7 linked regions of the Homo sapiens genome follow. The protein of the gene in region 1 interacts with the protein of each later gene in a pairwise test. Each region holds a gene or a part of one and is shown in the gene's direction. Other genes may lie near its edges. The genes, in order: ATP6AP2, TIMMDC1, NKG7, ZBTB16, NINJ1, SEC22A and CD72.

Region 1 (3,500 bases):
GCTTTTTTCCACAAAAGGTGTCAGATGACTTACTATTGGACTTTATTTCAAATCTGTAAAATTTTAAGAAAATGAAGAGGGTAGAAATCAGCATTCTTGATTAGGGGATTGCAACGACTGCCACAAATAAAATGTTTACTTTCCCTGTGAATTTTCCTTGTCAGTGTCATCTCAGAACCCCTTAACTCTGCTTATTAGATGTTATTGGGGAGGTGGGTTCCTGAGTTGATAATTAAGCACCGCTTTGTGCTTTTCAATGTTTAGGACCTTTCTTGGCCAGGACTCGCAGTGGGTAACCTGTTTCATCGTCCTCGGGCTACCGTCATGGTGATGGTGAAGGGAGTGAACAAACTGGCTCTACCCCCAGGCAGTGTCATTTCGTACCCTTTGGAGAATGTGAGTATTTATTATAAAAAATTAAAGGGATGCATTTTACATTTTCCCTTGTCAGCTGTCATTATGAATTGCATTCTAAACATACTTCTCTTATCTGTTTTTGATGCACAGTTTCTTTTGAAATTCTTTGACAAACACAATTTCTTTTTAAGAAAATTACATGATGATTGTAATTAACTGAGGCTTGGCTGTTCTCTGTGGATGAGAGTACTGTTTAAGATAAGAGATAGAGAAATTGCCCCACTCAGAATAGCCAGAGGCTTGAAAAAGAGAGCCACTAAAGGAGAAACCAGTTGGGGTTGTATCCTGCTACTGTTTTTTTGGCCATTGTCTTGTCATCTTCCCTGCAGGATTTTACCTCTTTTCGTGTGTAAGGACACTGGAGGCTGCTTGCTGGCTCACTTACTCCTTCACTGGCTATTCAGGCAATGTGGGTGACTGTGCTGATCTAAGAGGCCCTCCTTCCATTATAAGCATATAGAAGTGCTTGAAAGAATGTCACAAAAAACATTTTTACTAGCATAACTAAATTTGAATGCAAGAGGGGGTGATATACACAGGTGTTACATATGGATGGAAAACTCAGAAGCCATAGTGGTGAGCAGAAGCTGACGCTGAAACTGTGTTTCCTGCAGAAAGCCAGGGACTAGAAATGCTGTCAACTTGTTCTTGAAAAGCAGACTAGTAAAACTAGTAAAGCTGGCTTGCTGCCCTTGGCTGTTGGACCCAAAGAGTCCCCTGAGATAAATTAGAATTAGAATTATAGGCTTATGCTGTGCAGAGTGGTTCTTTGCAAATTCACATGACCTGCCCCATAGGGACATCTCCATAGCCAAGGGCTCCTTTGGTCAAATACGGAAGATGAGTGGAATTTACAAAGCACCTGAAGGAAAAAAAATGCCATGAGAAACAGGTGCAACAAACAGAATTCATCTCCTTAGAACTACGGAGAATAGGCCAATTTCCAAGAGATCTAAAAATACATACATTAAAATTGTGAAAAAAAGGGCCAGGCATGGTGGCTCACGCCTGTAATCCCAGCTTTGGGAGGCCAAGATGGGAGGATTGCTTGAGGCCAGGAGTTTGAGACCAGCTTGGTCAACATAGCAAGACCCTATCTCTAGGGGGAAAAAAAAAGAAAGAAAGAGAAAAAATTTGTGAAAAAAAGGAAGGAACAGAAACTATGAGGGAGTTATAAGACATTTTTGATACATGGTGCTTTAGCTGATACTTCAAAATATTTCATAATTTATATTGTGATTCTTTAACCCATGAGTTATGTAGAAGTATTTTTTCCAAATGCATGGGTTTTAAAAAAGTAATTTCTAATTTTTAAATTTCTAAGTTCACTGCATTGTAATACTGTGGTCTATGTGATGCTGAAGTTTTGGGATTTTTTTTTTTTTCAGACTTTCCTGTGGTCGAGTATAGATTATTTCCAAGTACACATGGCATACTTAGAAAAAATTACTGTGCAGTAGTCCACAAGGCAAATCTCAACAAACAATAAAGAATCAGTGTCATATAAACTAACTTCTCTGACCACAATGCAGTTAAATCTGAAAATAATAATAAAATGATATCTTAAAAGGGTATTTGGAGCCCGGCACCATGGCTCACGCCTGTAATCCCAACACTTTGAGAGGCCAAGGCGGGTGAATCACTTGAGGCGAGGAGTCCGAGACCAGCCTGGCCAACATGGCTAAACCCTGTCTCTACTGAAAATACAAAAATTAGCCAGGCGTGGTGGCACGCATCTGTAGTCCCAGCTACTCAGTGGCTGAGGCACGAGAATTACTTGAAACTGGGAGGTGGAGGTTGCAGTGAGCTGGGATTGCGCCACTGCACTCCAGCCTGGGTGACAGAGCGAGACTCCATCTGGGAAAAAAAAAAAGGTATTTGGATCAACATTTCTCCTTTCCCCATCCACCCGTCTCCCCCAGCGTCTTCTAACCATCATTCTACTCTACTTCTATGAGTTCAACTTACAAGTGAGGTCATGTAGTATTTGTCCTTCTATGCCTGGCTTACTTCACTTAACATAATGTCCTCCAGGTTTATCCATGTTGCAAATGACAGTTTCCCGCGCTTTAAAGGCTGTATAGTATTCCATTATGTTTATATACCACATTTTCTTTCTGCTTTTTTCTTTTTTTTTTGAGACAGAATCTTGCTCTGTCGCCCAGGTTGGAGTGCAGTGGCGCAATGTCATCTCACTGCAACTTCTGCCTCCTGGGTTCAAGGGATTCTGGTGTCTCAGCCTCCTGAGTAGCTGGGATTACAGGTGCATGCCACCACGCCCAGCTAATTTTTTGTATTTTTAGTAGAGATGAGGTTTCATCATGTTGGCCAGGCTGGTCTCGAACTCCTGAGCTCAGGTGATCCACCCACCTCAGCCTCCCAGTGGATCTCAGTGCTGGGATTACAGGTGTGAGCCACTGCACCCAGCTGCACATTATCTTTATCCATTCGTTTGATTATGGACACCGAGGTTGCTTCCATCCATATCTTAGAAATTGTAAATAGTGCTGCAGTGAACATGGGAGTGCAGATATCTCTTCAGCATACTGACTTCAATTGCTTTGGATATATATACCCAGAAGTGGGCTTGCTGGATCATGCTTTAGTGATCTATTGCACAAAATGGTGACTATATTAAATAATAATGCATTGTGTATTTCAAAATTGCTAAAGGAGTAGATTTTAGATACTTTTACCACAAAAAAAATATAAGTATGTGAGGTGATGGATTTGTTCATTAGCCTGATTTAATCAGTCTACTTTGTAAACTTATAACAAAACATAACATTGTACCCCATAAATATATACAGTTACTATTTGTCAGTTAAAAATAAAATAAAAAGTATTTGGAAATAGTAACAAACAGAAGATAACAACTCCTCAGATTTAAAGCATATGGAACACCCAGTAGGCAAAAGCCAGATCCACACCTACATACGGTGAAATTGAAGAGTCATCAAGGAAATGGAAAATCTTAAAAGCTGTGAGGGAGAAAAGACACTGTCATTACAAAGGAATGAGAGTAGAAGGAAAGCAAGGAAAATGTAGTGATTGTGTAGTATGAGCTAGGCTGAGTATTATTT
Region 2 (3,500 bases), on another chromosome or scaffold:
TTTGTCCTAAGGAAACAATCAAATGTATAAAAAGATTATTTGTGGAGGGATTATCATCATACCTTTATTTAAAATATCTATAAATAGAAAATCTAAGTGTTAGACAAAAATTTGTGGTACCTCCATGCAATGGAACTAGGTGGGAGAAAACTCAGTGATACAGAATTTAATAATATGTTCTGTGAAAATAAAAAATTTAGTATGTACACCATGGCCCCAGTTTTTGTGTTTTTGTTTTATTTTGTTTTTTTAGACAGAGTCTTGCTCTTTTGTCCAGGCAAGAGTGCAGTGACGCGATCTCGGCTCACTGCAACCTCTGCCGCCTGGGTTCAAGTGATTCTCCTGCCTCAGCCTCCTGAGTAGCTAGGATTACAGGTGTGTGCCGCCATGCCCGGCTAATTTTTGTATTTTTAGTAGAGACGGGGTTTCAGCATCTTGGCCAGGCTGGTCTTGAATTCCTGACTTTCGTGATCCACCCGTCTCGGCCTCCTAAAGTGCTGGGATTACAGGTGTGAGCCACCGTGCCCGGCCCCAGTTGTTGTTTTTGTTTTTTGTTTTATTTTGTTTGGAGGATCAGAAAAAAAGACTAACTTATTACTGACTCTGGGTAATGGGATTAAAGGTGATTTTGATTCTTGTTAATTTTGAAAATTTTAAAAATGAATATATAGTACTTAAAAATATAAACCTCAACTGTTATTTATTTTGTTTTTTGAGACAGTCTCATTCTTCCGCTGAGGCTAGAGTGCAGGAGTGTGATATCTGCTCACTGCAGCCTCCGCCTCTGGGGTTCAAACAATTCTTGTGCCTCCGCCTCCTGAGTAGCTGGGATTACAGGCGTGCACCACAATACCCAGCTAATTTTTGTATCTTTAGTAGAGGCAGGGTTTTGCCATGTTGTCCAGGCTGACTTAGAACTCCTGACCTCAAGTGATCCGCCTGCCTTGGCCTCCCAAAGTGTTGGGATTACAGGTGTGAGCCATTGCACCTGGCTTCAAATGTTATTATTTAAAAAGTGTTACCACCTTAGATGGCATTAGTTGCATTGTGCATAGTGAAAGGAAAATGAATGAGCATGATTGATGCACAGTCCCAGCAGAAAGGAAAGAAGTCTTTCTGTGCACTGGTCACCAGGTAGCATTGTAGGCCAAATGCTGCTTGCTTGTCACCCTGCCTGAGTGGTGCCATGTAGCAGTACAGAGAGAGTGAGTCTAGGGGAAGGCATAAACTGGAGGGGCTAGTGAAGGTTTTTTGCTTTTTTATTTTCCTTGAAGAAAGAAGAAAGAAAGAGAAGGGGAAAAACATTTTCAGATTTTTAAGGAGAGATGGGCAAAAATGAAGCAGAATGAATGGATCCATAGAACATATTGAAGATTTACTTTTGTAGAAGGGATGTGTCTTCCTTTGAATCTGCAGAGTGGATGGGAAGCTACCTGTGTTGGCATTTTAGATTCAGGAAGTATAGGCTGTAGTAGTATATTAACATTGGATTCAGAAAGCTCACTTAGGGATTTCCTTTTTGTAGAAGGAAAGTTTTAAAATAGGATTCTAGTTTTAAAGATGATTTAATATTGCCTTTCTTGTTTTTAAATAGCTGTCACGGGAAGTCTTTTTAGGATAAACGTAGGCCTGCGTGGCCTGGTGGCTGGTGGCATAATTGGAGCCTTGCTGGGGTAAGCATTAACATGGTTTGGTTCTAAATTGGCACAATTTTCATTAATACCTTGCCTATTAAAAAGTCTCATTTATTTTCAAAGAACAAATTTAATCCTTAGAATCTATAAAAGATCTCTAGTCTTGCATTGGCAGTAGCTTTGACTGTCCATTCTAATTCTACCCCAATAGTTTATCTTATTTACAGTTTTTATTTATAGTTTCTTTTACTTAGTAGTTATTACAATAAATAACATTGACTCAATACAACTATCTAAGATAGGGCCCTTATTCAAAATGCCTTTTTACCAGCTAAAACTGTTTAAATATTGCTAACACCTGAAACTATAGTTCGAACACAGGTATTTATGGGAGCAGGGAAAAAAGAACAAAAAACAGTTAACAAGCATATTCTGTAAAAATTGTTAGGATTTTGTTTGTTTTGCTTAATACATTTTTAAAAAATGTTCTTCCTCAATTTTTTACTTTGAACAATTTCAAACCTACAGAAAAGTTGAATGAATTAGTACATTGAAACCCCATATACCCTTCACCTAGATTCACCAGTTGTTAACGCCTTGGTGATATTTTCCATATCTATGTATATGTGTGGGATGTGAATATATTTCTTTTTCTTTCCGTTTGCTTCTTGGCTAAACTGTTTGAGACCTCATGATACTTCACCCCCATATATATCAGCATGTATCTCCCAGGATGAAGAATACTCTTCCATGAAATCATAATACAATTATCACAGTAAACATTGTTTCAACACAACTATCTAAGTTAGGGTCTATATTAAAAACTCCTCAGTTATCATACTAATGCCCACATGTTTCTCCATTTTGTTTGATCATCCCATCATGATTAGATTAATGTATTTTTGTCAGGAATACAACATAGGTGAAGTTGTATCCTCATGTATCACATCAGGAGATATTCTGTCACCCATTATAAGTAATATTAACTTTAATTACTTGATATATTGGTTTTCTGCTGTGCAACAAATTACCACAAACTGAGCATGTATTGCATGTGAAACAACACCCTTGTAGTTCTGTAGATTATAAATCTGGCTGGGTTTCCCTGCTCAAGATTTTACAAGGCCAAAGTCAAGGTCTTGGCCGGGCTAGGCTCTTACCTGGAGGCTCTGGGGAAGAATCTGTTTCCAAGCTCATTCAGGTTGTTGACAGAATTTAGTTCCTTGTGGCCAGGCACAGTGGCTCACACCTGTAAAACCAGCAGTTTGGGAGGCCGAGGCAGGTAGATCACTTGTGATCAGGAGTTTGAGACCAGCCTGGCCAACATGGTGAAATGCTGTCTCTACTAAAAATACAAAAATTAGCCAGGTGTGGTGGCAAGCGCCTGTAATCACAGATACTCGGGAGGCTGAGGCAGGAGGATTGCTTGAACCCCATATACCCTTCACCTAGGCAGAGGCAGAGGTTGCAGTGAGCCAAGATCGCACCATTGCACTCCAGCCTGGGCAACAGAGTAAGACTCCATCTCAAAAAAAAAAAAAAAAAGAGGAAAAACTAAAAAAGAATTTACTTCCTTGTGCCTTGAGGTCTGAGGTCCCTGTTTTCCTTGCAGGCTGTCAGCCAGACTATTCTCTGTTCCTGGAGGCCACCCACATTTCTTCTCCTAGGGCCCCTTTGTGTTTAAACCAGCTACAGCACATTAACCCCTTCTCATACTTCAAATCTTTAACTTCTACTCTGCCACCAGCCAGGGAAAACTCTGCTTTTGAGTGTTCACTCAGATAGCCATCTCCTTTTTCATTATCTCAGATTCAACTAATTAGTAACCTTAATTACATTTCTGAAATCAATTTTGCCATGTAAGAT
Region 3 (2,854 bases), on another chromosome or scaffold:
ACAAGAGTGAGACTCTGTCTCAAACAACAACAACAACAACAACAAATGCCTGAGACTGGGTAATTTATAAAGGAAAGAGGTTTATTTGATTCACAGTTCAGCATGGCTGGGGAGGCCTCAGGAAACTTACAATCATGGTGGAAGGTGAAGGGGAAGCAAGCCACTGTCTTCACAGAGTGGCAGGAAGAAGGCCAAGCGAAGGCAGGAAGAGCCCCTTAAAAAAACACCATATCTTGTGAAAACTCACTCACTATCACAAGAACAGCATGGGGGAAGCCGGCCCCATGATTCAATTACCTCCACCTGGTCTCTACCTAGACACGTGAGGATTATGGGGACACAATTCAAGGTGCGATTTGGGTAGGGACACAAACCCTAACCATATCACCGTTTCACAGAGGTCAAGTTTTCCTGGGCCTTCTACCTGGGCTGTGGTACCGTCACCTTATACCTGCTCGTAGATGAGGTGTTGCCAGGACCTGATGGTGTGGATGGAAGAGGCTAGCGTTTGGGGGGCTGGAGAACCCTAAACCAAAATCCTTATGTCCCCCAACACCCCCTAGGCCCCCCGATCCTGGTGATAAAGGCCACCAGGCTGGAGCCCCCACCCAAGCAGGGATGCCACTGAACTCATTAATCAGATGAGGATGTGGGTATGTCTGACTCTCTGCAAACCTTTCAGAATTGTGATTCTCTGCTGTTTGCCTGCCCTTGGCATATGCTCCAAACTGGGGCCCAGGATTCTGAGCTCCTGCCCGCCTCTTCCTCCCTCAGGACCTGGAGTTCAGGCCCCCAGCTCCTTCCTCCTTAAGCCCCAGGAGTTCTAACTCCCAAGTCCCCTCCTTCAGTAGAGACCCTAGACTTGGGGACTTCCTCTCCCAGAATGGAAGACTGCATAACCCACAGGAAAGCATGACACATCCCCAGCTGTCCCCTCCAGCCACATCTGCCCTCCCCCTTAATGTACACCCTAGCCTGATTGGCTTCCTCCCACCTCAGGGCCCCCAAGCCTCTCTCTCTCACCTCTTCCAGGAAGCCCCGACTTGGTGTTGAAGGTTCCATGGGTGGGAGTTGTAGAATCTGTGACAGAGGCAAGTACTAAACCACCGCCCAAACCACTGATGATCTGACACCCTCAGTGCCCTCCCCCATCACACACTAAGCGGGGAACTGGACCCCAGGGAGGGGAGGGAGGACGTTGCCTGTGCAATCCAGGAAGGGAGGGTATGTGAAAAGCTACCGGGAACTGTGTGAAACCAAACCAGCCTCATGTGACAAAGCGCAGGACCCCTCACTGCCCCAACTGCTTGCTGTTCTCTCTTTCTTGGGCTCTAAGGACCCAGGAGTCTGGGTGCACAGCCTCCTTCTCTCTGAGATTCAAGAGTCTGATCAGCAGCCTCTTCCTCCTCCAGGACCCAGAAGCCCTGAGCTTATCCCCATGGAGCTCTGCCGGTCCCTGGCCCTGCTGGGGGGCTCCCTGGGCCTGATGTTCTGCCTGATTGCTTTGAGCACCGATTTCTGGTTTGAGGCTGTGGGTCCCACCCACTCAGCTCACTCGGGCCTCTGGCCAACAGGGCATGGGGACATCATATCAGGTAAGGGGAATGGGTGTCCTACAGAGGGGTTGCCAGCGGGGATGGGTGCTCAGTGGTCTTCTCCCGATCAGGCTACATCCACGTGACGCAGACCTTCAGCATTATGGCTGTTCTGTGGGCCCTGGTGTCCGTGAGCTTCCTGGTCCTGTCCTGCTTCCCCTCACTGTTCCCCCCAGGCCACGGCCCGCTTGTCTCAACCACCGCAGCCTTTGCTGCAGGTAAGGACTCTGGACTGGACTGGGGCATCGCGAGCCAGCGAATTCCTGCCGAGGAGCTGAGCCATCTCTCTTGTCCTTGTCCCCAGCCATCTCCATGGTGGTGGCCATGGCGGTGTACACCAGCGAGCGGTGGGACCAGCCTCCACACCCCCAGATCCAGACCTTCTTCTCCTGGTCCTTCTACCTGGGCTGGGTCTCAGCTATCCTCTTGCTCTGTACAGGTGACTATCCTGCCCACTGCCCTGGGGAGCTTTGGGAGGGTCCAGTTGGGGTCCCTGAGGACAGAGGGCAGGGGCAAGTGCTTAAACTCTTTCTGGCTCCCCAGGTGCCCTGAGCCTGGGTGCTCACTGTGGCGGTCCCCGTCCTGGCTATGAAACCTTGTGAGCAGAAGGCAAGAGCGGCAAGATGAGTTTTGAGCGTTGTATTCCAAAGGCCTCATCTGGAGCCTCGGGAAAGTCTGGTCCCACATCTGCCCGCCCTTCCAGCCCTTCCCCAGCCCCTCCTCTTGTTTCTTCATTCATTCAACAAAATTTGGCTGGAATCTGGTTATTTTGAGATTAATTCTGCCAAGACATAAGCCAACTGTCTGCCAGCTCCATGGTAGGAGCTGGGCACCAAGGGAAGGTGAGGGCCCACCAGGCCGACCAGCCTGCAGGGCGCTCCTGCCCAGTACGAGTGCCCGGCCCGTGTGGACACAGGCTCCAACCCGTGTCTATGTCTCCCCTTCTCCAGCACTTTTCTTCCTCCCTGTGTCTTTCTCCCTTTAGCTGGCTCTCTTTCCTTCTCTCTCCCTCTCTGATTTTGTCCCCCTTGCCAGAACTCAGCCCTTCCTTGCACTCAGTCAGTTCTCTTTGCACATTTCCCCATGCTGGGGACACTGGCACGGGTCAGACCCAGGCCCTGCCCAGCAGGGGCTCAGTCTGTGGGGTGGTGGGGAGGAGGCACTTACAGACCAGAAGCAGTTAATACAGGCCAGACAGCAGTCCCAGTGCAGGGAGAATGCCGGAAAAAGACTGACCATATTGTGGAGGGATGGAGACG
Region 4 (2,778 bases), on another chromosome or scaffold:
CATTGAGCTTACCTCCCTATAGGGGAGAGAGCAGAGGTGGGGCAGCCTTTCGACTCTGTCCATGACGGCTGGCAGGGTCAGGGTAGTTTCTGGGCCTGCTTCCCGGCAAGCCGAGCTAGGGTGAAAACTGGGGGCGCACCAGGATGTGAGACAGAAAAGCAGAAGATGAGACTCTGTTCATTCACTTTTCCTAGGCCCATCCTGTGGTCATCTTTCCCCCTCCCATCATACCTCCTCCTTCCTGGAGCCTCTGCCGGCTTGGCTGTAATGGTGGCACTTACCTGGATATTTCAGTGGGAGGATGAAAGGCGAGACTCACCCTACGCGGTGGGACAGATGGGGAGAGGAAAAAGGCAGAGATGGCCAGGAGAGGGGTGCAGGACAAACCAGAGAGGTTGGGTCAGGGGAAAAGGGTGGGGAGAAAGAGGGGTGCAGGCCCTGCAGGCCGGTTAGCCAGCAGCTGCGGCCTCCCCGGGCCCTTGGCATCCAACTTCGCAGACAGGGTACCAGCCTCCTGGTGTGTATCATAGGATTTGTTCACATAGTGTTATGCATGATCTTCGTAAGGTTAAGAAGCCGTGGTGGTGCACCATGACATCCAACCCGTATATATAAAGATAAATATATATATATATGTATGTAAATTATAGCACTGAGGGCCCTGCTGCCCTGCTGGACCAAGCAAAACTAAGCCTTTTGGTTTGGGTATTATGTTTCGTTTTGTTATTTGTTTGTTTTTGTGGCTTGTCTTATGTCGTGATAGCACAAGTGCCAGTCGGATTGCTCTGTATTACAGAATAGTGTTTTTAATTCATCAATGTTCTAGTTAATGTCTACCTCAGCACCTCCTCTTAGCCTAATTTTAGGAGGTTGCCCAATTTTGTTTCTTCAATTTTACTGGTTACTTTTTTGTACAAATCAATCTCTTTCTCTCTTTCTCTCCTCCCCACCTCTCACCCTTGCCCTCTCCATCTCCCTCTCCCGCCCTCCCCTCCTCCCTCTGGCTCCCCGTCTCATTTCTGTCCACTCCATTCTCTCTCCCTCTCTCCTGCCTCCTGCTGCCCCCTCCCCAGCCCACTTCCCCGAGTTGTGCTTGCCGCTCCTTATCTGTTCTAGTTCCGAAGCAGTTTCACTCGAAGTTGTGCAGTCCTGGTTGCAGCTTTCCGCATCTGCCTTCGTTTCGTGTAGATTGACGCGTTTCTTTGTAATTTCAGTGTTTCTGACAAGATTTAAAAAAAAAAAAAAAGGAAAAAAAAAGAAAAAATGAATTTACTGCTGCAGGTTTTTTTCTCTCTCCATGTGTCACTAAGTGAAGTTTGTGCCTTCTATAGCAAAGAGAATATTTTTTACATCCTACTAACAGTAGATTTTTTTGTAGTGAACATTTTTTGTATTTTTATTTATAAGTCTCATAAGAAAAATAGCAATGTTCAGTTGTATACCTTGAATCTGCAGTTAGAAGAGAATAAAGTTAATTCAGTTGTCTCTCGCTTGAAGCGTCCCACCTTTTTATTGAAGTACTTGGTTTTGTTTTGTTTTTTTTTTTTGTTTTTTTTGCCTTTTCTTGTGTGGGGAACATGGTAGAGGAATTAAGATTTTTGTGTGGGGACTGGGAAAAAGAAAGCTCTGTATTACACATATTTAGACTTATCTATGTGTCACTTTTATGCCACATTTACAAGGCACAGATGCACTGAATAACATTTTTCTAATACTTTTTAGTTAAAAAATGTTAAATACGTTAATATCGTATGATCCTTGGTACAATGTGCTAGGTAGGCACTTGTTCACTTATTCAGCAAGACCACCATGTACCAGTTACTGTTGTCGGCGCTGGGAATTACAGCAAAGGACAAACAGACAAACCCTGGCCGCCCTGGGGCTACCATGCTAGCGGGCCGCTGAGTCGGAATCCGTGGCTGTGTTAGGATAACTTGCTCAGGATTGCACGGCTGGTGAGCAGCAGTCAGAACTCCATCCACCTCTCCTGATACCAGGCCAGGTTCCTTTACTCCAGAGTTCTCAAAGCAGGGGTCTCACGTCTTCTTTAGTCTTTAGAGAGACATTTTCAACTGACTCCTTAGTGGCTAAGCAAGCTTCAGAAATTTCTCAACAAGAAGCTTCCACACAATCAAAGGTCCCTGCCTGCGTCTGTAGCAGCCAAGAGCTGTTAAGAAAGGAGATTGGAGCAGGTGGCCTTGTGCAGGGGAGGGGATGGGTGGGAGGTGGCCGTGCAAGCTCTGCATTGTCATGGACGGAATAAAGGATTTCCACAACACTCAATGGGTACGATTCCCTCCCTGTCTCATCTCCCTGTGTCTGGGCCAAGCCCTCTTCTCTGGCCCTTTCCCCGTTCCTCTTATCGGGGATAGAAGCATCGCCCTATCTTTAGCTGTAAAACCAAAGCCACTCAATCCTAGACGTGGTGCTTCAGCACCTCTGCCTGAGGCCGTCCTCACTGCCTGTCTCTGACCAAAATAACCCCTCTCCTCCTCAAGACCCAGGGGACACAGCCATGATTGTCGTGCTGGGTCACTCCGGTAGGGTAAACCCACACCGAGCATCAGGCCTGGCCTCCAGCATCACCAGGAGTCGCAGGGAGCCATCACCCCACGCGCCACCGCCACCCACCTGGGGAGCCAAACAAGGCCTGGCCTGCCAGGGGTGGCACTGGGAGGGTTACCTTTCAGCCCTGTTCTCCTGGGGCCAAGACCCGGGTCTGTCTGACCCTGGGGTTGCTGAGCAGAAACCGCCTGGAGCTACCCCTACCACCGGACA
Region 5 (3,500 bases), on another chromosome or scaffold:
CAGCACTTCCTGCTGTCTTGCTGGGGTTTCCTGCCAGGAACACAGACATGGAGCTGGGAGACCCTCTCAGGGCCTGCTTCCTGGGCTGGCCGGTAGGAGACGGTGCAGGGCTCCAGTGCCAGGCCCTGCCTGTCTGTGTGGCATCTGGGGAATGGGCACAGCAGCTCATGCCCACACTGGTGGGTCAGACAAGGGATGCCGGAAGCCCCAGGCAGGTCCTAGCATATGGTGGGGTAGAAGAGGGGTGCCTGATTTTCAGGTCGCCCCACCATCTGCCAATGCCTGCTGAGTCCAAGGGTTAGGGCCAGTGAGCAGGACAGGCTGCGAGCAGCCAAGGTGTAGACTGGGACCCCCCAGGCACCCAGGGCAGGCACCTCGTCCCTGTTGTCCCCCTGGGTCCTGCTCAGCACAGGAGAACCTGTGCCCCAGGCTGTCCTTTCTTTGCTGTGTGACTGTTTTGTGAGCCTGTTCAGCTGCTTTTGAGTCAGTGGAGTTGGTCGGGGAGGCAGAGTCTTTCAAAACAGTGAGAGCCAGGCATCAAGGAAAACAGCCCTGCCACCCACTGCCATGCGCTCCACCAGCCACGGGGCATCTGAGACCACCCCATTCAGTCCCCTCCACATCCTTGTCTACCCATTTTACAAATGAGGAAACTGAGGCATAGAGTGGTCAGTGTTGAGGCAGGACTCGGGGGGTAAAGGAGGTGCTGTGGCAGCTTCCAGCCCTACTCCTCACAGGCCCCTGGAAAGGGCGACTGATATGCATCACCACATTTGTGGGCCCACAGCCCCGACCCTGTCTCCTCCCATCCAAGCCCTGGGTGAGCCAGAACACCCATTATGCTATGGCCAGAGCCAGGCCGGTGGATGCAGCAAGCCTGGTTCATATCCCACTTCTGTGCCAGCCCCTCCTGCCTGAGCTGAGGATGCTCACTGAAGTGGCCCTAGGACCGACCGTGTGGCCCAGCCCCAACATGTGCAGCCTGCAGTGGGGAGGCCGACCGTCCACAGAAGGTTGCATGAGGAGCCAGCCACGCCCCTACACAGAGCTGACCTCCTCACCAAGCCTCCCTCCTAGCTTTCAGAGGAAATATATCTGGCCTGGCCCCAGGCCCCGAGTGCTGCTGAGGTTCTGGGAATCTATTAACCAGGGTGTTTATTCCCTGCCCTGCCCAAGCCATGGGCACTGGTCTCAGCAGGGCTTAGCTCCTGGCAGCTCCTGCTGGCTGGTCAGGACCACAGGGCTCCCTCACCTGTGGTAGCTGGGTCCCCCGGCCACCCTCAGGCCCATCCCAAGATAGAGGCAAGTGCCCAGGACTGGGGGAGAGTGGGATCGTCCTCCCTGGGACCCTCCTGTGTGGTGGTCAGCTCAGGGCTCCAAGGCCCAGAGTACCAAGGTTAGGGACAGGGAAGCAGACTGTCCCTGCTGCCCTCCCCTCCACATGATGCTCCCAATGTGGCCTGCTGCCTGGGGTGGTTGCCAGCTATGCTGTATCCTGGGGCAGCCCTATGCTTTGGGACACACAGTCCTGGGAGATGGCTCTGGGAAAACCTCCTCTGAGCTGCAATCTGCTGGTCTGTAGAATGGGAGAGGAACACAGCCTCTCCCTTGGTAAGCAGGAGTTTCCCAGGTGCAACCCTAGATATACGGAGGGGGAGACTGAGGCCAACGGAGGGGGAGCTTGCGTCAGGGCCACGGGCTGGGCTGTGGTGAGCCAGGGCTTGACCTGCATGCAGAAGCTTCCCTAGCTGCAGGTTGGACAGGAAGCAGATGGCCGGATGGGCTGGAAGTGCCCTTCACCAGCAGGGGTGCATGGTCAGGGCATTTGCTGGCCACTCGGGGCTCAGAGGCCATCCTGGGGCATCTGCTCCACAGCCTCGTGGTACACATGGAAGACTGAGGCACAAAGTGGGGCTAGTTGTCCGGACACAGCTGGAGCCTGAAGCAGGGAGCCATTGAGAGTTCAGCCCCTAAGGGACAATGGCATCAGCTACCAGAGCTTCTGAGCCCCGGGGCCTGGGTTCAAATCCTAGCCAAGCCCTCACTTGCTATGTGGCTTTGGGTAAGGAACCGCCTTTGCTGGGCTTCAGTTTACCCACCTTAAGTGGGCATGAGGACAGCAGGGGCACAGGCTCCTCGTGGCTGGGGGTGCTGAGAGCTGAGGCTTGGGGAGCTGGAGGCTCTGCGCGGATGGTGCTTTTTAATGGATCTGAGTGTTCCTCGTGACTGCATGGCTGTGAAATATTTAAATGGTTCTGCAGAGCTCAGAAAAAAAGGGAATTCTTCCTCCTGCCCAGAGGCCAACACAGTTAGCCTGGGCTTGTGTGTCTGTTTATGTACGTGTGCATATGTATGTATGTGCATGTGTATTTGTGTGTGCGTATTGTGTGCACATGTGTGTCTCACGTCTATGTGTGTCTTTCTGGGGGATGTGTGTTTCTGTGCTTTTGTGACTAGGAACACGCACATATATGTGTAGATGCCCCCAGAAGGTGGAAATCCTCACGGGGTCTGCACTTGGCCTTCTCCCAGCACCAAGTCCTGGGATGGAGACCCGAATGAGCATAAGGGTGGCCTTGAAGGAAGGCACTTTGGCACTTGAGGTTTGTGAAACTTAGGAGCACATGCCCACTGTGGCCAGCAGCCCCTGGGACACTGCACCTTGCGGAGCACACGTGTGATGGGGTGTGGCCCACTGGGCAGCTTCGCAAGAGCAGAACTGGAGACGACCTCAGTGCCAGGCACAGGCCCTTGTGTCCGGGCTGTCCTCACCCAGACCCTGGGCAGCCTGGGAGGAAGCCCCTAAGTGGACAGTGGTGGGACAGGGACACACAGTCCTGGGAGGTGGCTCTGGGCAAACCTCCTCCAAGCTGCAATCTGCTGGTCTGTAGAATGGGAGAGGAACACAGCCTCTCACTTGGTGAGTGCCCTGGCTGTGCTGGGGCCTGGGGGAATCCCAGGGAGTGCAGCGTCAGGCCCAGGGTGGGAGAGGCAAAGTAGACACCCCATAGAGGCTTCGGGGTATGCATGGAGTGACCCGAGAGCACACCAGGGCCCCAGGGACAGCGCTGCTGGGTGGCCCAGGTAAAGGCGGCTGTCCCTGTGCGCACATGTGTCCACGTGAACTTGCTACTTAGAGAGCAGCTGATGCTGAAGGCAGGTTGTTGGAATTCCCAGGCCCAGGTGTAAGCAGCAGAGCCCACCAGTGTCCCCTGACGCCCACTCTCTTCCTCCTGGGCACATAATTTTAGATGAAACTGAAAAACACGCAGCATGAAAGCAAGGCCCCTGCCCTCTGCTGGTTCTGTATTGGCTGCCTCGTGTATTTTTCCAGCCTGCAGAAAGTCGAGGCCTGGATGGATACCATGTCCGCCCCTCCCTGTGGCCCTGCGGCACCCCGGCCTCCCGGCCTGCATCTTTCATGAGTCTGGAAACAGGATCTCCCAGAGAGGGCCCCAGGAGGTTGGCTGCCAGCAGTGGGTTCTCACAGCTGCCTCCAA
Region 6 (3,500 bases), on another chromosome or scaffold:
AGAACTGTTTGTACCAGTTTTTACTTCCATCTGTACTTATGAGAATGCCAGACAGAAGTATTATTTTTTAAAAAGCTAATGTGGCTGGGTGTGGTGGCTCATGCCTGTAATCCCAGCACTGTGGCAGGCGCCTATAGTCCCAGCCACATCCTATGCTGTGGCATGGGAACCCAGGCTGAGGCATGAGAATTGCTTGAACCCTGGATGGGGGATGTTGCAGTCAGCCAAGATGGCGCCACTGCACTCCAGCCTGGGTGACAGAGCAAGATGCTGTCTCAAAAAAAAAAACAAAAAACAAAAAACAAAAGCTATATGTTAAGTGAAGCATAGTATGTTGTTTTAATTAGTTTTTTGTTTTTTTTTTCCTCCTGAGACGGAGTCTCACTCTGTCGCCCAGGCTGGAGCTCAGTGACGCGATTTCGGCTCACTGCAACCTCTGCCTCCCGGGTTCAAGCAATTCTCCTGCCTCGGCCTCCTGAGTAGCTGGGATTACAGGTGTGCACCACCACGCCTGGCTAATTTTTGTATTTTTAGTAGAGAAGGGGTTTCATCATGTTGGCCAGGCTGGTCTCAAACTCCTGATCTTGTGATCCACCCTCCTCAGCCACCCAAAGTGCTGGGATTACAGGTGTGAGCCACCACACCTGGCCATTTTAATTACTATTCTTATATTACTAGTAAGTTGAACATTTTTACATATGCTTATCAAGTTTGGCTTTAATTTTTATGTAACCCAAATTGTTCATTTTGTTTTAGGTCTTCTCTGTTGGTTGAAATGTCTATGATTTTATCTGCCTCAGTCATTCGTGTCAGAGATGGACTGCCACTTTCTGCTTCTACTGATTATGAACAAAGCACAGGAATGCAGGAGTGCAGAAAGTATTTTAAAATGCTTTCGAGGAAACTTGCTCAACTTCCTGATAGATGTACACTGAAAACTGGACATTATAACATTAAGTAAGACTTCAGTTTGCTTCATTTGACTCATTTGCCCAGTAGTTGTCATTTTAATGAAGTTTAAGTGGTTGCAATAGAAAGGAGTGATTAGGAAAACCTGTTCAAGTCGAGCATCATATTGTTCTGAACTTATACTAAATAGTCATCATGTCAGCAGCAGCCTTTTTGTAGTTTCTTTGTATCTGGCTCTGGGAAATTTTATAGTTGTGCAGATCATAGATATCCCTCTTTTAAGTTGATCACTAAATATTTATTTGCATTCTTACATACCTAGGGTTGTAGTAAGCAAACTATAATTGGAAATAAAAATTTTTTACCTGATATCTGCCCTCAAAGAACTGAAGCAACTTACGTCTAGTGGGAGGGGGTAGCACTTATCACTGAGTCACATACAAATCAAGTAAAACTGGGCAATGGGATAGAGAGTGACTATTTATTGTGGTCAAGACACTCTCTGAGAGGGTGACATTTGAGCAGAGACCTAAAAGATGAGAGAGGAGGTAATTATATGAAGGATGCTGTGGATGAAGAGCAAGGCAGAGGTAGCAGCCAGTGGAGAAGCCCTTTTTTACATGCCAAGAGACAGAAAGAAAACCAGTGATCCTGAAGAATTATGGACAATTAATAGAGTTGCAGAAAGTGAGGCCAGAAAGGTAGGAATGGGGCAAGTTATGTAGTGAGTTTGGAGTCTATTAGTCTGTTTAGTCTAATGCAGTAGGAAGCCATTGGGTAGTTTTAAGCTATAGAGTTACATGATTTCATTTGGCTTAGAGTAGATCATTCTGCCTGCACTGTGAAGAATAAAGGAGGAAGTGGAAGCAGAGAGGTCAGATGGAAGACTCAGAGAAGTTCAGGTGGAGGTGCTGATTGTAACGAGCTAGGGTAGTAATGAATAGAAGTAGTTAGATTGGGGCTATATTTTGGGATTAATACCAGCAAATCTTCCTACTGGATTGAAATAGGATGTGAAGGTAAAAGAAGAATAATCACCTGTAGTTTTTTGGCCTGAGGAACTGGATGAATAATGTAGCTGAAATGAGCAAGAAAGGAGAGGATAAGTGCGTCTCCTTGGTAAAAAGTAAGAGTTCTGTTTGGACATGTTAAATCTGAGATGCCCATTAGACATCCAAGGGGCACTGCTAGGTAAGCAGCTGGATATATGAGTCTGAAGCTTAGTGAAGAGGACAAGTATAGACATTTAGATTTGGAAGTCAGCTTACAGTTTGTGATTAAAACCATGGGAATGGATGAGACCACCTTGGAAAGCTTAGACGTGAAACAATTAGAGAACAATTAATGTCTGATATCAAGCTGGATATTGATTATGCATACAGAAGGAAATAAGGTAAAAACACAGTCCATATAGGATATAATAAGCAGAGGGCTTCGTTGTTGAGATGAGACATGAGCCATGTCCTGAAGAATTAATAAGAGTTGGCTAAGGCAGGGAGGAGGGCATTCCAGGTGTACGGAGGAGAGGCAGAATAAGCAAAGAATGTGACTTAGCATGGTAGGTGTATTAACATGCTTATCCTGGGTCAGTGGATGGTGATTTATGGATAGTTGTGAGACATGCGTGATAATCATTGTGGGGCCAGATCCTGGATCGCCCTGAAAGTTCAGATTGAAGGACGTGACTTTGATGTAATATGTTATAGGAAGCTGTGCTGCAGGTTCAAGGGAAGTGACTTGATAAAAACAATCCTGAGACAGTGGAACTTAGGGTGAGTGGACAGTCCAAGAGGAGAGAGATAAGGCAGAGAGGCCAACTTATTAGGGCCTGAAGTAAGAAAATAAACGTGCAAATGAAAATTAGAACACCAAAAGAACTAGAATGATAATGAGAAATAGTTTGATTGGGGATCACTTTGAAGTTGGATCACTTCAAAAGAAGTGACCAAGCTGGATAGGATGGAATACCAGAGATGAAAAGAAGGAAGGGGCAAAGATGACTGAAGCCTTGGAATTGGACAGAATGTTGGTGTCATTGCCAGAAATGAGATCTTTGGAACAGACTGTTTATGAGGTGTGAGGCAGAAGAGAAAGATAATGAAGCTCCATTTTGATCATTTTTTTAAGACACTGGGGCTTGCTCTGTTACCTAGGCTGGAATGCAGTGGCATGATGACAGCTCACTGAGCCTCAACCTCTTGGACTCAAGTGATCCTCCCACTTCAGCCTCTTGAGTAGCTGGGACTACAGGTGCACACCACCACACCCAGCTAATTTTTTTATTTTTAGTAGGGATGAGGTCTCACCATGTTGCCTAGGTTGACCTCAAACACCTGGGCTCAAGTGATCCTCCTGCTTGGCCTCCCAAAGTACTGGGATTACAGACATGAGCCACTGCACCTGGCCCACTTTAATTATTTAACTTGAGGTTTTAGGCCAAGCACAGTGGCTCACACCTGTAATCTCAGCACTTTGAGAGGCCGAGGCAGGCAGATCACTTGAGCCCAGGAGTTTGAGATCAGCATGGGCAACATGGGGAGACCCTGTCTCTACAAAAAACTAAAAAATTAGCCAGGCGTGACATAGTCCCA
Region 7 (2,966 bases), on another chromosome or scaffold:
ACGCCCAGCTAATTTTTGTATTTTTAATAGAGTCGGGGTTTCACCATATTGGTCAGGCTGGTCTCTAACTCCTGGCCTCAGGTGATCCACCTGCTTCAGTCTCCCAAAGTGCTGGGATTATAGGTGTGAACCACTGCGCCCGGCCTCTACTTTAATGTGTATCTCATCTCAGCTTGCTGGTCAGCTCCCTGGGCTGCTTGACAGGTTCCTGGACTCTTGTGGCCTCTCAGGCAGAGAGGTCCCACACCTGGTGGGCTGGATTGTAGGGATTAGTTCCTTGGGGCCAGAACAGCACACAGAATGACTCCCCTCCAAAGGCTGGCAGAGATTCTTACTCAGCTGGAAGGCAAATTTAGCAGTGAGCCTGCATCTGCAGGGTGGCACTTGATGGATTCAGGGACAAGTTACCAAAGAGCTGTCATATATACAGCCCCCTTGCCAAAGCTGAGGCCTCCCTAGGGTGTGCATTTTCTTCCATATTTCTCATCACTCTCCATGTATCTCTGGTCTCTCTGAATCTCCCCTCAGCACTCTTACTACTTCTTAAATTCACTGTTGCCAAATGGTGGTTCAGGGAATTCATATTGGACTGGCCTCAGCTCTAACAAGGATTGGAAGTTGACTGATGATACACAACGCACTAGGTAAGTTTGTTAGGACTTCTGGGTATTTTCAACTCCATAATCCCCTCCATAAAGACATGGTAATCAGATTTCCTTCCCACCTGGTCCCCTCAGGACTCTCCCATAAATCAACACTGTAATTGCCTATTTGTCTGTTTCCTCTATTTGATTAATAACTTCTTAGGGCAATCTTATTCTCCATTCTATTTCCACCTAGAAGTCCCTGGCACATACTTTTTTGTTTCAGTAACTACTAGGTTGGGACCTACGCTATCTTTTAGGGGGAGACATTAAGGATTTAGTTAAGGCTCCACAGCTGATGACAGCAGCGTTTCTCCATCCTTCGAGAAGGCCACCCAAACTGAGGTTGTACTTTCTCAGTAGCGGCCACTTGGGGCACTAGAGCTGCCTCAGTGAAGTACGCAAGGGAGCAGCGGGGGTACCATCGAAGCTCCACTTCACTGTGATCAAGACAGCAGTGGGGTACCATTGAGGATCAACCCTAGGGACCCTGAAACAGGGTGGCAACCTCCTTATGTTCCTCAATTGGCCTTCCCATCTTTTTTTTTTTTTTGAGATGGAGTCTCGCTCTGTCGCCCAGACTGGAGTGCAGTGGTGCAATCTCAGCTCACTGCAAGCTCCGCCTCAGGGGTTCACACCATTCTCCTGCCTCAGCCTCCCCAGCAGCTGGGACTACAGGCGCACACCGCCATGCCCGGCTAATTTTTTGTATTTTTAGTAGAGACGGGGTTTCACCGTGTTAGTCAGGATGGTCTCGATGTCCTGACCTTGTGATCCACCCGCCTTGGCCTCCCAAAGTGCTGGGATTGCAGGCATGAGCCACCGTGCCCAGCCTGGCCTTCCCATCTTTAAGATCTCGAGTTATTTTTCCCTCTGCTGGTTCTAAAGTCTGTTTTAGTTGAACTCCAGACATCTGTCCTGAACCATGCCCAGATGTGGCCTTAGGCAGGCAGGGTGAGTTAGGATTTAGGTTTTATACAGGGGAAGGGGAGAGAAGGGAGGGTGGGATATGTCCAGAGCATATCCCAGCTCTACCTTACTACTTTTTAGGACTTATGCTCAAAGCTCAAAATGTAACAAGGTACATAAAACTTGGTCATGGTGGACACTGGAGTCAGAGTCATGTAGAAGTTCTCTTCCCTACATCTGTGAGATGACAGCTTTCAGGTTTCCAGATTAGGACAGTCCTTTGCACTGAGTTGGTAAGAGTGAGGGATGGGGCTGAGGCATGGGGAGTCCAGGGGCAGAGGGACTCAGAGCAGGGACTCAGAGCAGGGGCCCAGGGGCCCGAGAGAAAACTTGTACCTGGGATGAAAGTTCCTCCACAGCCTCCAGTTGCTTGGTCTGCTTGTTAGGGTGGGGTGGGCAGGGAGGGACAGGTAAGGCCTACAACTTATGGGAGGCTGGTGGTGTGGCTGTCGAGAGCTGAGGAGGAGATGGGGTGAGTGGGATGAGGGTTCAGTTAAGTCAACCATGGAGCTCACTGATACTTTACTTTTCCAGACACTCATGCCAACAAGAACCTGTGCCCCTCCTTCCTAACCTGAGGCCTGGGGTTCCTCAGACCATCTCCTTCATTCTGGGCAGTGCCCAGCCACCGGCTGACCCACACCTGACACTTCCAGCCAGTCTGCTGCCTGCTCCCTCTTCCTGAAACTGGACTGTTCCTGGGAAAAGGGTGAAGCCACCTCTAGAAGGGACTTTGGCCTCCCCCCAAGAACTTCCCATGGTAGAATGGGGTGGGGGAGGAGGGCGCACGGGCTGAGCGGATAGGGGCGGCCCGGAGCCAGCCAGGCAGTTTTATTGAAATCTTTTTAAATAATTGCACGTGTTAGTCTCATGTGTCAGCAATGCTGTGTCTGGTTCAGTGATCCCCACGGGAACGCGAGCCGGGGGGTCGACTGGAAGTGCTCTGTCCCTTGAGTCCATGCTGGGGCTCCCCTACACGGGGAGAAGAGCCGGTCAGCCCATCTGGAACTGGCACTGTCCAGCAAGTGTGCTCTGTTCTTACAGGGTGTCCTGAAGGCCAAAGTTGGAGGCCTGAGACCACGGGCTCCACTGCTAAGAGCGTGCCCCAGGCAGCTGCAGGCTGGGTGTGGGTGGCTTGGCGTGGTGCCCTCGGTGGCAGAGGAGACTGCCCGCCTCACAGTTCAGGTTGCGGTAGCGGGCAACAGCTGGTGTGGGGCGGGGGCACATGGACAGGAAGCCAAAGCTGAAGGGGCCGAGGCAGCAGCCAGGACAGGGCAGCCCCTCATCGGGCTCCCGGGGAGCTGAAGGGGGTGGCGAGGGTTCTGTCCGCTCCAGGGCTGCCGCCCGGGGCAG

What was found.
Region 2: the proteins of ATP6AP2 (region 1) and TIMMDC1 interact in binary tests that used the Homo sapiens proteins (3 or more experiments, as listed by UniProt).
Region 3: the proteins of ATP6AP2 (region 1) and NKG7 interact in binary tests that used the Homo sapiens proteins (3 or more experiments, as listed by UniProt).
Region 4: the proteins of ATP6AP2 (region 1) and ZBTB16 interact in a two-hybrid assay, tested with the Homo sapiens proteins (one study listed by BioGRID).
Region 5: the proteins of ATP6AP2 (region 1) and NINJ1 interact in a two-hybrid assay, tested with the Homo sapiens proteins (one large-scale study listed by BioGRID).
Region 6: the proteins of ATP6AP2 (region 1) and SEC22A interact in binary tests that used the Homo sapiens proteins (3 or more experiments, as listed by UniProt).
Region 7: the proteins of ATP6AP2 (region 1) and CD72 interact in binary tests that used the Homo sapiens proteins (3 or more experiments, as listed by UniProt).

The regions. Positions count from the first base shown.
Region 1 is NC_000023.11:40,590,970-40,594,469, forward strand, and holds part of ATP6AP2 (renin receptor precursor), read left to right. Parts: intron 1-264; coding exon 265-396; intron 397-3,500. UniProt on the Homo sapiens protein: Multifunctional protein which functions as a renin, prorenin cellular receptor and is involved in the assembly of the lysosomal proton-transporting V-type ATPase (V-ATPase) and the acidification of the endo-lysosomal system.
Region 2 is NC_000003.12:119,512,047-119,515,546, forward strand, and holds part of TIMMDC1 (complex I assembly factor TIMMDC1, mitochondrial isoform 1 precursor), read left to right. Parts: intron 1-1,594; coding exon 1,595-1,673; intron 1,674-3,500.
Region 3 is NC_000019.10:51,371,120-51,373,973, reverse strand, and holds NKG7 (protein NKG7), read left to right. Parts: upstream 1-1,319; 5' UTR 1,320-1,438; coding exon 1,439-1,595; exon of another isoform or gene 1,596-1,666; coding exon 1,667-1,813; coding exon of another isoform or gene 1,814-1,899; coding exon 1,900-2,034; intron 2,035-2,138; coding exon 2,139-2,197; 3' UTR 2,198-2,354; downstream 2,355-2,854.
Region 4 is NC_000011.10:114,254,488-114,257,265, forward strand, and holds the end of ZBTB16 (zinc finger and BTB domain-containing protein 16), read left to right. Parts: 3' UTR 1-2,278; downstream 2,279-2,778. UniProt on the Homo sapiens protein: Acts as a transcriptional repressor. Transcriptional repression may be mediated through recruitment of histone deacetylases to target promoters. May play a role in myeloid maturation and in the development and/or maintenance of other differentiated tissues.
Region 5 is NC_000009.12:93,127,752-93,131,251, reverse strand, and holds part of NINJ1 (ninjurin-1), read left to right. Parts: intron 1-3,500.
Region 6 is NC_000003.12:123,208,443-123,211,942, forward strand, and holds part of SEC22A (vesicle-trafficking protein SEC22a), read left to right. Parts: intron 1-378; exon of another isoform or gene 379-495; intron 496-756; 5' UTR 757-775; coding exon 776-957; intron 958-3,500. UniProt on the Homo sapiens protein: May be involved in vesicle transport between the ER and the Golgi complex.
Region 7 is NC_000009.12:35,609,482-35,612,447, reverse strand, and holds the end of CD72 (B-cell differentiation antigen CD72), read left to right. Parts: intron 1-528; coding exon 529-644; intron 645-1,694; coding exon 1,695-1,824; 3' UTR 1,825-1,846; intron 1,847-2,147; coding exon of another isoform or gene 2,148-2,298; 3' UTR 2,299-2,466; downstream 2,467-2,966. Other genes in the region: TESK1 (dual specificity testis-specific protein kinase 1), read right to left, coding at 2,706-2,966. UniProt on the Homo sapiens protein: Co-receptor of B cell receptor (BCR) that plays both positive and negative roles on B-cell functions. Recognizes the Sm/ribonucleoprotein (RNP) self-antigen ligand, and coligation of CD72 and BCR inhibits BCR signaling.